3 separate regions of the Homo sapiens genome follow, and all the other regions are linked to region 1. The links come from fine-mapping of genetic effects on gene expression. A gene starts in region 1. Each other region holds a variant in brackets. All regions are shown on one strand. Distances are from middle to middle.

Region 1 (4,241 bases):
TTGCTTGGCGTGGTGGCGGGCGCCTATAATCCCAGCTACTCGGGAGGCTGAGGCATGAGAGTTGCTTGAACCAGGCAGGTGGAGGTTGCAGTGAGCCGAGATTGTGCCACTGCACTCCAGCCTGGGCGACAGTGCAAGATCCTGTCTCAAAAATAAATAATAAATAAGTGAAAGCAGAGACTATATCGGATACCTATCTGTATGCTTTTAAAATGCCAAGCATACAGGAGGAATACAATAAACACATAGTAGTGGACTAATAAATGTTAATTCTACAAAAGGTTAATTTATCTTTAGCTTTTCTGAAGTGATTTTTTTCACCCTGGTAATTTTTAGCTTGGAGAATAATTCATCACTAAGTGTGGGCAACATTTCTGCTAACGCTGCCATCAAAGAACTTTCCCTTTTTGGGGTGGGGTAGGTCTCCCTTTGCTGTCCTCTCAGGAAAAGTTGAGCTCTGAAGAAAAATGAGTCTAGCAAGGGTGTATTACGAACGCAGCAATCAAATAACTGCCAAATTTACTGAACTTTTTCAATTTGCTAGGTACCCGTGGGTACCAAGGTGTGGGGATTCTTTGAATCCTCACTCCCACACTTTTGGGGCAAGCTGCTTTTTCAAAAGCAAGCAAGCTCTGAAAGAGTATGTTACTTGCGCAGTGTCTTACAAGGGATAGCTGTGTCATTTCAAATACAGATGTCAAGGCTGGACGCAGTGGCTCACGCCTGTAATCCCAGCACTTTAGCAGGCCGAGGCAGGCAGATCACCTGAAGTCGGCAGTTCGAGATCAGCCTGACCAACATGTAGAAACCCTGTCTCTACTAAAAATACAAAATTAGCTGGGCGTGGTGGCGTATGCCTGTAATCCAGCTACTTGGGAGGCTGAGGCAAGAGAACTGCTTGAACCCGGGAGGTGGAGGTTGCGGTGGGCTGAGAACGCGCTGTTGCACTCTGGCCTGAGCAACAAGTGTGAAACTCCCTCTCAAAAAACAAAAACAAAAACAGACGTCCAGTAAAGGATGCACAGTCAATAGGGACTGATCAACACTCGAAAAAGCACAGTAGGAGGCCGGGTGCGGTGGCTCACGCCTGTAATCTCAGCACTTTGGGAGTCCCAGGTGGGCAGATAACCTGAGGTCAGGAGTTCGAGATCAACCTGGCCAACACAGCGAAACCCCATCTCTACTAAAAATACAAAAAATAGCCAGGTGTGGTGGCGGGCGCCTGTAATCCCAGGTACTCGGGAGGCTGAGGCAGGAGAATCGCTTGAACCTGGGAGGCAGAAGTTGCAGTGTGTTGAGATGGCGCCATTGCACTCCAGCCTGGGCGAAAGAAACGCCATCTCAAAAAATAAAAAAATAGTAGGGCCGGGCGTGGTGGCTCACGCCTGTAATCCCAGCACTTTGGGAGGCCGAGGCGGAAGGATCACTTGAGGTCAGGAGTTCGAGACCAGCCTGGCCAACATGGTGAAACCCCACCTCTGCTGAAAATACAAATATTAGCTGGGCGTGGTGGCCCACGCCTCAGGCACGAGAATCGCTTGAGCCTGGGAGGCGGAGATTGCAGTGAGCCGCGATCGTGCCACTGCACTGCAGTACAGCCTAGGAGAAAAAAAAAAAAAGGCAAAAAAGCACAATATTGCAGTCTGCAGAATCTTCTTTCTCCCCCTTTCACAAGAGACCACATTCTGACACCAACTTCCGTGGAAACACTGGCGCTAGCTCCAAACTAACAATCGCCAAATTCGAATCAGTTACCGGGAGAAGGAAGTGAGGCACTTCGCCGGGCAGGAGTCCACGTTGGGAGGAGGAAAGGCGCAGGCTCCCGAGTTGTGGAGCCAACGTTCAAATCCTTACGGGGTGGGACCGGCCTGGGCCAGTCATTTTACCTGCGCCTCAGCTCTAACAGGGTACTGAAATACCTACTTTGGGGGGCCTGCTAGGAAATTCAAATGGGCAACGCTGGTCAGGGGCATCTGGCACAGTGGCCATTCTTGGTAGAGCTACGCGCTCCAGGGCTGAGCGGGAAATGGCGAGGCCGGGGCACTGGGGCACCGCCCAGACGCGGGGCGGGCCCCCGGGGTCAGGCCCGGCCCCACACCGCCCTCCCCCACAGAGCGGCGAGGCCCGCCGCTGCCCGCCCGCCGGCCCGCCAGCCTGCCGCGTCAAGCCCGCCGCCGGGGCCCGCAGCCCGCGACTCCTCCCCCGCCGCACCTCGTGGCCCCCGCTTCTCCCTAGTCCCGCTAGAGGGGCTCGCGCTCCGCCACCCGCCCGCCCGCCCGCCCAGCGCTGCCTGGCGCCTCACCTCGCCGAGACCCCCTAATCCGCGCCAAAGAGCCGCCGGTCGCGCGCGCCTCCGGGCTTTGCGTGCGCGCCCCCGGGCGGCGCAGTGGCGAGCGCGCCGCGTGCCGCGCGCCCGCCGCCTCCGCCCCTCGGCCGTGGAGGCCCCCGCCGGGTGCTGAGCGCCCGCCACCGCCCTCTTGGCCTTTTCCCGGTCCCCGCCGCGCGCCTGCTGCTGTCCCCGTGCCCGAGGACTGGGAGGATGGGGCTGAGCCGCTTGCCTGACTTTTGATCCGACCAGTAATCACTTTGCCCGTGTGGCGCGTGGCCCGTTGCCTGAGGCTTCCTGGCGCGTGGGGCTGTTTGGTCCCCTCCGGAGTGCGGTGAGGCGGGCCGAGCCGGGACTGCCTGGGTTTGGGGATAACGTTCCCATCTCCACCCCTGTTGCAGCAAGGGAAATTGAGGCTGAGGGAACTGGGCCCAGGGACGGCGAGCCGTGGCGCCTCTCCAGTCCGGGCCCCGAAGGGCTGCTCGTGGATGAACCAGACTGATTTTAAGGGGTGAAGAGGGTGCGTTTCAATCAGATGCTCCTGGAACGTCGAAATTGTCTTCTTTGGAAAGAACCATCCCCTCTTTGGGCTTCAGAGGCCCAAATTGAGGCGCAATGATGAGAGGATGTGGTGGTCTACTCTGATGTCAATCTTGAGGGCTAGGTATGTCCCAAGATCTCTTATTACTGCTGTTAATGATGATTCTAATAGCTACCATTTGTCGAGTACTTATTGCATGCCAGACATTGCACAAAGCAGGTTACACATACGGTCTCATTTAAAACTTGTGAGGTAGGCACCTGTTGTTATCCCTATTTTCCAGGTGAAGAAATCTAGGCACTGACATAAATAACTTGGGATCACACTGCTAGGAAGTACTGGGGAAGGGAATTCAAACCATGGTTTATCTGAACTATATAACTGTTACATCTATTTAGAAGTCTGCCTTTGATAAATTTGCCCAACCTTTTTTTAGAATTCACTTACACTTTATGCCTGTGTGAACCCTTTCATTCTTTTTTGGTATATGCATAATACAAGTTCATTCCAAAAAAAAAAAAAAAAAAAAGCCCTGCCGGGCGCGGTGGCTCACGCCTGTAATTCCAGCACTTTGGCAGGCCGAGGCGGGCGGATCACAGGGTCTGGAGTTCTAGACCAGCCTGACCAACATGGTGAAATCCCGTCTCTACTAAAAATACAAAAAATTACGCGGGTGTGGTGGCAGGCACCTGTAATCCCAGCTACTCCGGAGGCTGAGGCAGTAGAATCGCTTGAACCCTGGGGGCAGAGGTTACAATGAGCCAAGATCTTGCCATTCCACTCCAGCCTGGGCAACGAGAGCGAAACTCTGTCTCAAAAAGAAAAGAAAAGGAAAGAAAAACCACCTCCCACCAGGTTAAATAAATAATTAACATTTTGGTATGTACCCTTCCAGACATTTTCCTATGCATCACATCAATAAATATATGATAGGATATTTTACATTTGATGTATCCTGAAGATTAATTCAACAAATGTTTAGTGAGTAGGCTTGTTGTAGGTGCTGGGAATTCAGCAGTGAACAAAACAAAGTCTCTGCCTCATGGAGCTCATATTATAGTAGGGAAGACTGTCAATAAGCAATATACACATTACTAAATGATAGATAATGCCCAGTAATGTGGCAAGTTTTATGGAAAAATAAATCAGGATAAAAGGATAAGAGTGATATGGGGATTCTCTTAGTTAGGGTAGATAAGGAAGGCCTCTTAGCTAAGGAGGCACATAAATATCTGATCATTTAATGAGAGAAGGAGCAACATGGATTTCTAGAGGGAAACTATCCTAGAAGAGAAGCAGCAAGTGCAGTGACCCTGAAATGGGGATTTGTTTGGCATGGAGAAAGGGCAAGACCAGTGTGGCTGGAGCACAGCA
Region 2 (4,241 bases), 42 kb before region 1:
AACCCTGTCTCTACAAAAATGTACCAAAAATATAGCCAGACATGGTGGTATGTGCCTGTAGTCCCAGCTACTTGGGAGGCTGAGGTGGGAGGATTGCTATAGCCTGGGAGGCAGAGGCTGTGGTGAGCTAAGATTGCACCACTGCACTCCAACCTGGGCTACAGAGGGCGTCTCAAAAAAAAAAAAAAAGCCAAAAAACAAAAAAACCTGTAATCCCAGACTTTGGGAGGCTGAGGTGGGAGGATCGCTTGAGGCCAGGAGTTTTGAGACCAGCCTGGGTAACACATTGAGATTCTGTCTCTACAAAAATTTTTTTTATAAATTAGCCAAGTGTGGTGGCGTGTGCCTGTTGTCCTAGCTACTTGTGAGGCTAAGGCGGAAGGATCATTTGAGCCCAGGAATTCAAGGCTACAGTGAGCTAAAGATTGTACCACTGCATTCCATCCTGGGCAACAGAATGAGACTCTGTTTCTTTTAAAAAAAAAAGCCTCTGAATAAATACTGCTGATAATTGGTACTACAGTTTGATCACTTCAGTAGTTTAAACTTGTACAACTGGCTCTGGAGAACAAAAGGAAGAAAAGAAACACATAGGAGCAAATGGGAGGAGAACTGGAATTCTCCCAGATAAAAATTCATATTTGAAGCTATCTCTGAGCACACTCAGCAGCAACTGAATACAATATCTTAACTGTATGAATAACCTAGGGAGGACAACAGCACAGCAGGCAGAACAGAAATGAGAAGGCAGAATCTACAAGAATGAGAATCACTTGCTCACAGTCTACTTAAAGCAGCTGGAAGCTGCAGTATAAGCTAGCAAACAGAGAACCAGAGATCATTAAAAATAAACAAACAAACCAAAATCACCTGTAATTTGTCCATTGCTACAAGGCCCCTGAAATCTCAGCTTTGGGGGAAGCACAGTCTCCCTGTGATTACACTGGAGAATGATAAAGTTTCCAAACGGCTAGCCTTAAAATATTTCAAGAAGTGGGCAGAAGTCAGAGGCAGCTCCTTCCCACTGCAATGTATTTCTAACATTGTTCAAAATAGCTAACAACATGTTTCTGTTTTCTTGACAGAAGGCACTTACTGCTTGCTTGGCAAGAAAACCAACTCAGAGGCCTTAACTGCAGGGAGGCCAATCAAAATCCCTACTGCGACCAAACAAGTAGAAACCTGTGACACAGGTATTCCCCAGAAGCAACACTATTTAAGTCATTTCCCCCCAAGCTTTTGGCCAAGATGCACACAAACAATTTTGTGCAGGGAAGATCATGTGATCTAATGGCTAAAGTAAGCAACCAGGAAGCATTAGGCCAAGCTTATCCAACCTGTCGCTCGTGAGTCACATGCAGCCCAGGACGGCTTTGAATGCAGCGCAATACAAATTCGTAAACTTTTTTAAGACATTATGAGTTTGTTTGTTTTTTATTCCTTAGCTCATCAGCTATCGTTAATGTATTTTATGTGTGGCCCAGGACACTTCTTCTTCCAGTGTGGGCCAGGGAAGCCAAAAGATTGACACCCCTGGATTAGGCAAATTACTTAACTTCTTTGTCTGCTTCCCTGAATGTAAAACAGGAAAATATCTATTCCTCAGGAATGTGTTGAAGCTATAGAAGATAACAAATGTGAAACCTCACAAAAATGAAACAGCAACAAACATTCAAGGTTGAGCCTGAGCAACATAGTGAGACCCTGTCTCTACAAAAAAATTTTAAAAATTAGCCAGGTGTGATGGTGCACGCCTGGAGTCCCAGCTACTCAGGTAGCTGAGGTGGGAGGATAGTTTGAGCCCAGGAGGTTGAGGCTGCAGTGAGCCATGATTGTGCCACTGCACTCCAGCATGGGCAACAGGGCGTGACCCTGTCTCAAAAAAAAAAAAAAAAAATCAAGATTGTAAAGACAGCTAAGTATTGTACAGTATTAAGAACACAGACTTGGGGATGACTCTACCTCTTGCTGGCTGTATGATCTCAGGCAAGTTATCTAACCTTTCTATGCTTCAATGTCCTCATCCACAAAAATGAGGATAATAATAATATGCAACTCATAAGGTTTTGAGGATTAAATGACTTAATATATATGAAGAGCTTAGAATGGTAACTAATAGTAAATGCTATATGTATTAGCAATTATTACTGATAGTATTCATGTCTAAAATATCCTATGTATAAAACAGTGAAATCAGGCCGGGCACGGTGGCTCACGCCTGTAATCCCAGCACTTTGGGAGGCTGAGGCGGGTGGACCATGAGGTCAGGAGATCGAGACTATCCTGGCTAACATGGTGAAACCCCGTCTCTACTAAAAAATACAAAAAATTAGCCAGGCATGGTGGCGGGTGCCTGTAGTCCCAGCTACTCGGGAGGCTGAGGCAGGAGAATGGCGTGAACCC[A/G]GGAGGCGGAGCTTGCAGCGAGCCAAGATCGCGCCACTGCACTCCAGCCTAGGCGATAGAGCGAGACTCCGTCTCAAAAAAAATAAAAAAAAAAAACAGTGAAATCACTATAAGTGAAAGGAACTGCCAGTAGGTGAATATACAGAGACCAGGCTGGACCTCTGCTCTACTAATTGTTAAAGGATTTAAAGGCTAATAATATGTGCCAAAGAAATACAATTTGAAAAATACAGTGAAAGGTGAAGGGGTCCACAGATCCAAGCCTAGGAGAGAAAACTTTCTAAAATTACCTTTCCAGAACAGAGGGAGAAGAAATTGTGAACTGTACTAAGGTGCAACCCTGAGAAGTACTGGAAACACAGACCCAACACATAGGAGGAGCTCATCATATCTCTTGCTTGCCTGGGTTATGGGGCAACAATGACTTGGAAGACATTACAACCAGGACTTTAGGATCCTGAGAAACTCAGGGAAAGAGTACTCTAAAAATTTAGGAAGAATTTTTACAAATGAAAGGAGATGGGGAAAGAGATGGCAGCAAGAAGGAACTACACTAAGCATGTGCATTGAGATCTCACAACATACATGAGACAAGACAGTTCTAAGATATGAGTCTTCTCTCTCTCTCTTTCTGAACCAAACATTTCTGCTTATTTCAATAAAATATGAGTAAGTACCAATTAGGGATCACGGAACTTCCTTATTTTTCCTTGGATACTGCTTCACTTGCAGTATACATTTGAAATACATTCTGAAAGCCTTCTGGTATGGCTGCAATACAATTATCCCTCCATTGTGTCCCAGGTCTCTATAATGAACCATGCAAACCAAATTTATTAAACAAATTCCATGATTCAAGGCAAAAATCTTTGTGTGGGTGAGGAAAAGGTCTTGGTGGCATCAGCCAATATTCTGGATAGGTTCTAAATACAAAACCCAGCCAAACAGTCTGCAACCTTCCAGTAGTTCTAAATGAGGAACCATAAAAATAATGTTGTTAATGCTCAGTAATATTAAGAGCATAATGGTATAATGGAATGGTAACAACACAAATCTGAATTATGTACCATGTTTCATTAGAGACATTTACACTCTGACTAATCAGTGTCACCTCTTCTTTAATGGCAGAGGACATAAAGAAACAGCAAGCAAGATTCCAAGCACTTACTCATGATTATACCATGACTCAGAAGCAAGCCAGAGGCTGAATCAGTGTCCTGATTTCTACAAAATCTGTGCCCCTCTAACTGTTCCAGGTGTGCTTATAAAGCCCCTTTTCATTCCTTCCTGACTTTCCATGGGCTCCTAGTGCACTTCACTGAGTGTTCTGCGAGTGACAGCTCAGGGACAATATGCTCCTGGACATGGTCATGCTGCCACAGGAGCTGCTGTAAAGACTCAGAGCTGTAAACAAAATACCTCTCTGTGGCATGAGCAAGTCATTCCTTTGGTCTGTAGTGCTGACAAGCTTCTTTAAACTGTTATCATCTTTTTTATTTTTTAGAGGTGGGGGGTCTCACTTTGTTGTCTAGGCTGACCTTGAATTCCTGGGCTCAAGAAATCCTCCCACTTTGGCCTCCCAAAGTGTTAGGATTACAGGTGTGAGCCAACCATACCCAAATCTGAAGTGTTATCATCTTTTTAAAAGCATTCATTTAGGGCCGGACGCGGTGGCTAACCCCTGTAATCCCAGCACTTTGGGAGGCAGAGGTGGGCAGATCAGTTGAGGCCAAGAGTTTGAGACCAGCCTTGCAAACATGGCAAAACCCTCTCTCTACTAAAAATATAAAAATTAGCTGGGCATGGTGGCGCTAATCCCAGCTATGCCAGAGGCTGAG
Region 3 (4,241 bases), 130 kb before region 1:
CTCATTTTCTAACCTAAAATTGTATGTAGATAATTAAAAAAAAAAATACTGTTCTGGCAAGTGAAATAAGAAATGGAGTATTAATATTTGAAAAAAGAGATAAAATTATGTTTACTTGGTGATAATGAAATTCTTTTAAAAATCTAAATTCAAGCAGCCAGGTGCAGTGGCTCACCCCTGTCATGCCAGCACTTTGGGGAGGCTGAGGTGGGCGGATCACCTGAGCCCAGGAGTTTGAGACCAGCCTGAGCAACATGTCAAAACTCCGTCTCTACCAAAAATACAAAAATTAACCAGTCTCATAACCCGGTCTATAGATAGATAGATAGATAAAAAAATATTTTTTAATCTAAATTCAGGAGTTTAAATGTATTGCATTTGGCAAAAATTCATAACAATCCTACATATTATTAGTAGTTAGAAAATATGATGAAATTAGGCTGGGCATGGTGGCTCATGCCTGAATCCCAGCACTTTGGGAGGCCAAGGCGGGCAGAACAATTGAGGCCAGGAGTTCGAGACCAGCCTGGCCAAAATGGTGAAACCCCATCTCTACTAAAAATACAAAAAAAAAAAAAATTAGCTGGCCATGGTAGCGGGTGCCTGTAATCCCCACTACTCAGGAGGCTGAGGCAGGAGAATTGCTTGAACCCGGGAAATGGAGGTTGTAGTAAGCTGAGATCGTGCCACTGCATTCCAGCCTAGGTGACAGAGCAAGACTCTGTCTCAAAAAAAAAAAAAAAAAAAAAAAAAAGAAAAGAAAATGAAGTTTAGAAACCTTATTTTTTTTGTTAGAAAATATAACGAAGGCCTTAGTGGCTGATGCCTGTAATCCCAGCACTTTGGGAGGCCGAGGTGGGTGGATCACCTGAGGTCGGGAGTTCGAAACCAGCCTGACCAACCCCGTCTGTACTAAAAATACAAAATTAGCTGGGTGTGGTGGTGCATGCCTGTAATCCCAGCTACTTGGGAGGCTGTGGCAGGAGAATTGCTTGAACCCAGGAGTCGGAGGTTGCAGTGAGCTGAGATCACACCACTGCCCTCCAGCCTGGGCAACAGGAGTGAATCTCTGTCTCAAAAAAAAAAAAAAAAGAAAAAGAAAAGAAAGAAAATATAATGAAATTAGAAATCTTTTTTAAAAAAATTATTAACTAATTCAAGCCCTTATCACTTTTGAACTTCTGACCTCATAGCTAGGGTTACTGGTTCCATTTTTTTTTTAATCTCCTAGCAATCTATTCTGCACACCTCTACCAGACTGTTTTGTTTTTTTTTTTCCCCAGACAGAGTCTCACTCTGTCACCCAGGCTGGAGGGAAGTGGTGTGATCTCGGCTCACTGCAACCTCCACCTCCTGGGTTCAAGCGATTCTCACGCCTCAGCCTACTGAGTAGCTGGGATTACAGGCATGCGCCACCACGCCCAGCTAATTTTTATATTTTTGGTAGAGACGGGGTCTCGCCATTTTGGCCAGGCTGGTCTCAAACTCCTGGCCTCAAGTGATCCACCCACCTTGGCCTCCCAAAAGTGTTGGGATTATAGGCATGAACCACTGTGCCTGGCCTTGATACGAATATCAGAAAGAAATTTCTTCTGTGGGTTCTCATAAAGAGGAAACTAATATAATCAACATTGCCTTCAAAAAAAAAGAGAAATCCTTTCAGTAAATAAAGCAACAGTTTTCATTGGGTAGTTTCTTATTACATTTCTCAATATAGGCCAAATGGCATAACTCCAAAGTATGAGTGGAAGTCATTTTAAGTGTGGAAAAAATAGATTAAATTGTAAACTAGGAGGTGTAGTAGTGCATACAGATGGCAGGCTCATGTCTTTGCTCTGTAAAGGAAGCATACAAATCAATGAGAAATATACCAACATCCCAGTAACGTATGAGCAAAAACGTGAAGTGATTCATAAAAGGGGAGGTACAATTAATCAGTAAACATAAATTCAAATTAAAACAAGGTTTCATTTTTTACCTACTAATTTTTTTTTTTTTTTTTTTTTTTTGAGACAGATCTCACTCTGTCACTCAGGCTGGAGTGCAATGGTGCAATCTCGGCTCACTGCAACCTCCGCCTCCCAGATTAAAGCAATTCTCATGCCTCAGCCTCCCAAGTAGTTGGGATTACAGGTGCGTGCCACCACGCCCAGCTAGTTTTTGTATTTTTAGTAGAGACAGGGTTTCACCCTGTTGGCCAGGCTGGTCTCGAACTCCTGGCCTCAAGTAATTCACCCACCTCTGCCTCCCAAAGTGCTAGAGGCATTACAGGTATGAGCCA[C/T]CATGCCCGGCCTGCCTACTAATTAAGCCCAATTTTTGTATGGTCTGTTTGTATGAATACTAATAGTGTTGATGTGGTAAAATGTGGACTACATACTGTAGGATGGAATCACCTATGGAAAGAGAAGTTTGGCACCATGCTTTCTCCCTGACTGTGAACTTCTTGAAGACAGAGATCAAGACTGTGTTTTTCATCTTTTCTTCTTTATCTGAGCACAGTGCCAGGCACTATGTAAACATTCAGTAAACACTCAGTAAACGTTGAATGAATTAAAGGACTTAATATGCATTCAGAGTAGCTGACTCAGTAATTCCAAATCTGAGAAAATATCCTAAGGCAGCGATTCTAAATATGAATTCACAGAAAGAAGCAAATTAAGTGCACAAAGTTGTTCTTTGTAAACGTGAAAAATTAGAGACAACCTGAAAGTCCAAATCTAGAGGATTGGTTAAGTAAATTGTGGTGAATCTTTAGCCCAGGATCTTACGCAGCCATTTTGTAAAGGAGCACGAAGTTTGAATGACACAGAAGTGTTACTACAGGGCTTGAAGGAAATCTGCCAAAATGATATTAGGGATGTGTCTGGGTGATGAGACACTGGATTTTTTTTTTTTTCTTTTTTAGACAGGGTCTCCCTCTGTCACCCATGCTGGAGCACAATGACGTGATCACAGTTCACAGCAGCCTTGACCTCCTGGGCTCTAGCAATTCTCCCACCTCAGCCTCCTGAGTAGCTGGGACCACAGGTGCACACCACCAAGCCCAGCCAATGTTTTTGTATTTTTTGTAAAGACAGGGTTTTGCCATGTTGCTCAGGCTGGTCTCAAACTCCGTGGGCTCAAGGAATCCATTCACCTCGGCCTCCCAAAGTACTGGGATTACAGGCATGAGCCACTGTGTCCAGCCAAAACACTGGATTTTTAAATATTCTTTTAGTTTTTTCATTTTTTTCAACTTTCTTTCAATAGCATTTGTTGCATTTATAATGGAAAAACAAGTGTTTTTACTCTGGTAGGAGAAATGTGTCATTACCCTCCATTCACTTGCACAAACCCTCCCTGTAGATAGCCCTTGTTACCCTTGCCCACTTCTCCTTTCCGTTGTAGTGATAGATTATGAAGTTCTCAAAACTGAATTTTATTTATTTACCTGTTTGTTCATTGTTTAGAGACAGGGTCTCACACTGTCACCCAGGCTGGAGTGCAGTGGCACAATCACGGCTCACTACAGCCTTGAACTCCCAGGCTCAAGTGATCCTTCCATCTCAACCTCCCACAGCTGGGACTACAGGCATGCACCACCATGCCTGGCTTGGTAGGAATAGGGCCTCACTATGTTGCCCAGGCTTGTCTCAAACTCTTGACCTCAAGCAGTCTTCTTACCTCAACCTCCCAAAGGGCTGGGATTACAGGTGTGAGCCACCACGCCCAGACTACTTTAGGGACTTTAATTGCAGTAAATCTGCATGGCAACCTGACATCTTTACCCTGCCGTCATCCTTTCCTGAAGCAGAGGAGAATCATGCCCAAGCTACCAGACATTTTTTGTCCTGACAGTCCACCTGACTAAGGAGGACTATAGTACCACACATCACTGCCCCTAAAAGGCAGCTGAATCAGAATATTGCGAACAGAAGCTGGGGAGAAGGAATGGGGGTAGTTTACTACTTATCCTCTATTTCTCTATTTACATTCAGAGAGGCAGAATTCTTGGGGTCTGAATGAGAGTCTTCCAGTTCTGTCCTTAATGGATTGGTTAACTGTTATGATGACTAATCCAAGGAACTTGGGAGAAAAAGCACGTGTTTACTGCAGTCCTCCAATTTTCTTTGAGCTTCTGGAATTCAGTTCATTATCCTCTGGATCAGAGAAATGCATTAAACTCTGCATTTACTTCCTGAGCTCCAGCTACTAATGAAATTGATTCGCTAGTGATATGTGCCGAGGGTGCCTGTGAAGCT

Alleles and levels. Positions count from the first base shown, and alleles are read on the strand shown. Sizes are in standard deviations (SD) of each study's normalised expression. Not every link is listed here.
In carriers of allele A in region 2, the expression in prostate of the gene that starts at base 2,366 in region 1 tends to be higher than with G alone (moderate effect, 0.71 SD a copy in GTEx).

The links. PIP is the estimated chance that this variant, and not a neighbour inherited with it, causes the effect. A credible set is the group of variants that fine-mapping cannot tell apart.
Region 2: its variant is the best candidate, but not a certain one, in a credible set for the expression of TADA2A in prostate (GTEx, PIP 0.59).
Region 3: its variant is the best candidate, but not a certain one, in a credible set for the expression of TADA2A in fibroblasts (GTEx, PIP 0.57).

The regions. Positions count from the first base shown.
Region 1 is chr17:37,405,011-37,409,251 of GRCh38, reverse strand. It overlaps TADA2A (transcriptional adaptor 2A), which reads right to left and starts at 2,366. Exons shown (of 16, transcript NM_001166105.3): 1 at 2,303-2,366. It overlaps ACACA (acetyl-CoA carboxylase alpha), which reads left to right and starts at 2,416. Exons shown (of 56, transcript NM_198834.3): 1 at 2,416-2,990. The coding sequence starts at 2,953. RefSeq lists an enhancer at 550-1,234.
Region 2 is chr17:37,447,276-37,451,516 of GRCh38, reverse strand. The region is part of intron 8 of TADA2A (transcriptional adaptor 2A); the gene reads right to left. Among named protein-coding and RNA genes, the nearest start is that of DUSP14, 40 kb to the left of the region's middle. The variant A/G (reference allele first, on the strand shown) is at 2,404.
Region 3 is chr17:37,530,440-37,534,680 of GRCh38, reverse strand. The region is part of intron 19 of SYNRG (synergin gamma); the gene reads left to right. Among named protein-coding and RNA genes, the nearest start is that of DUSP14, 43 kb to the right of the region's middle. The variant C/T (reference allele first, on the strand shown) is at 2,282.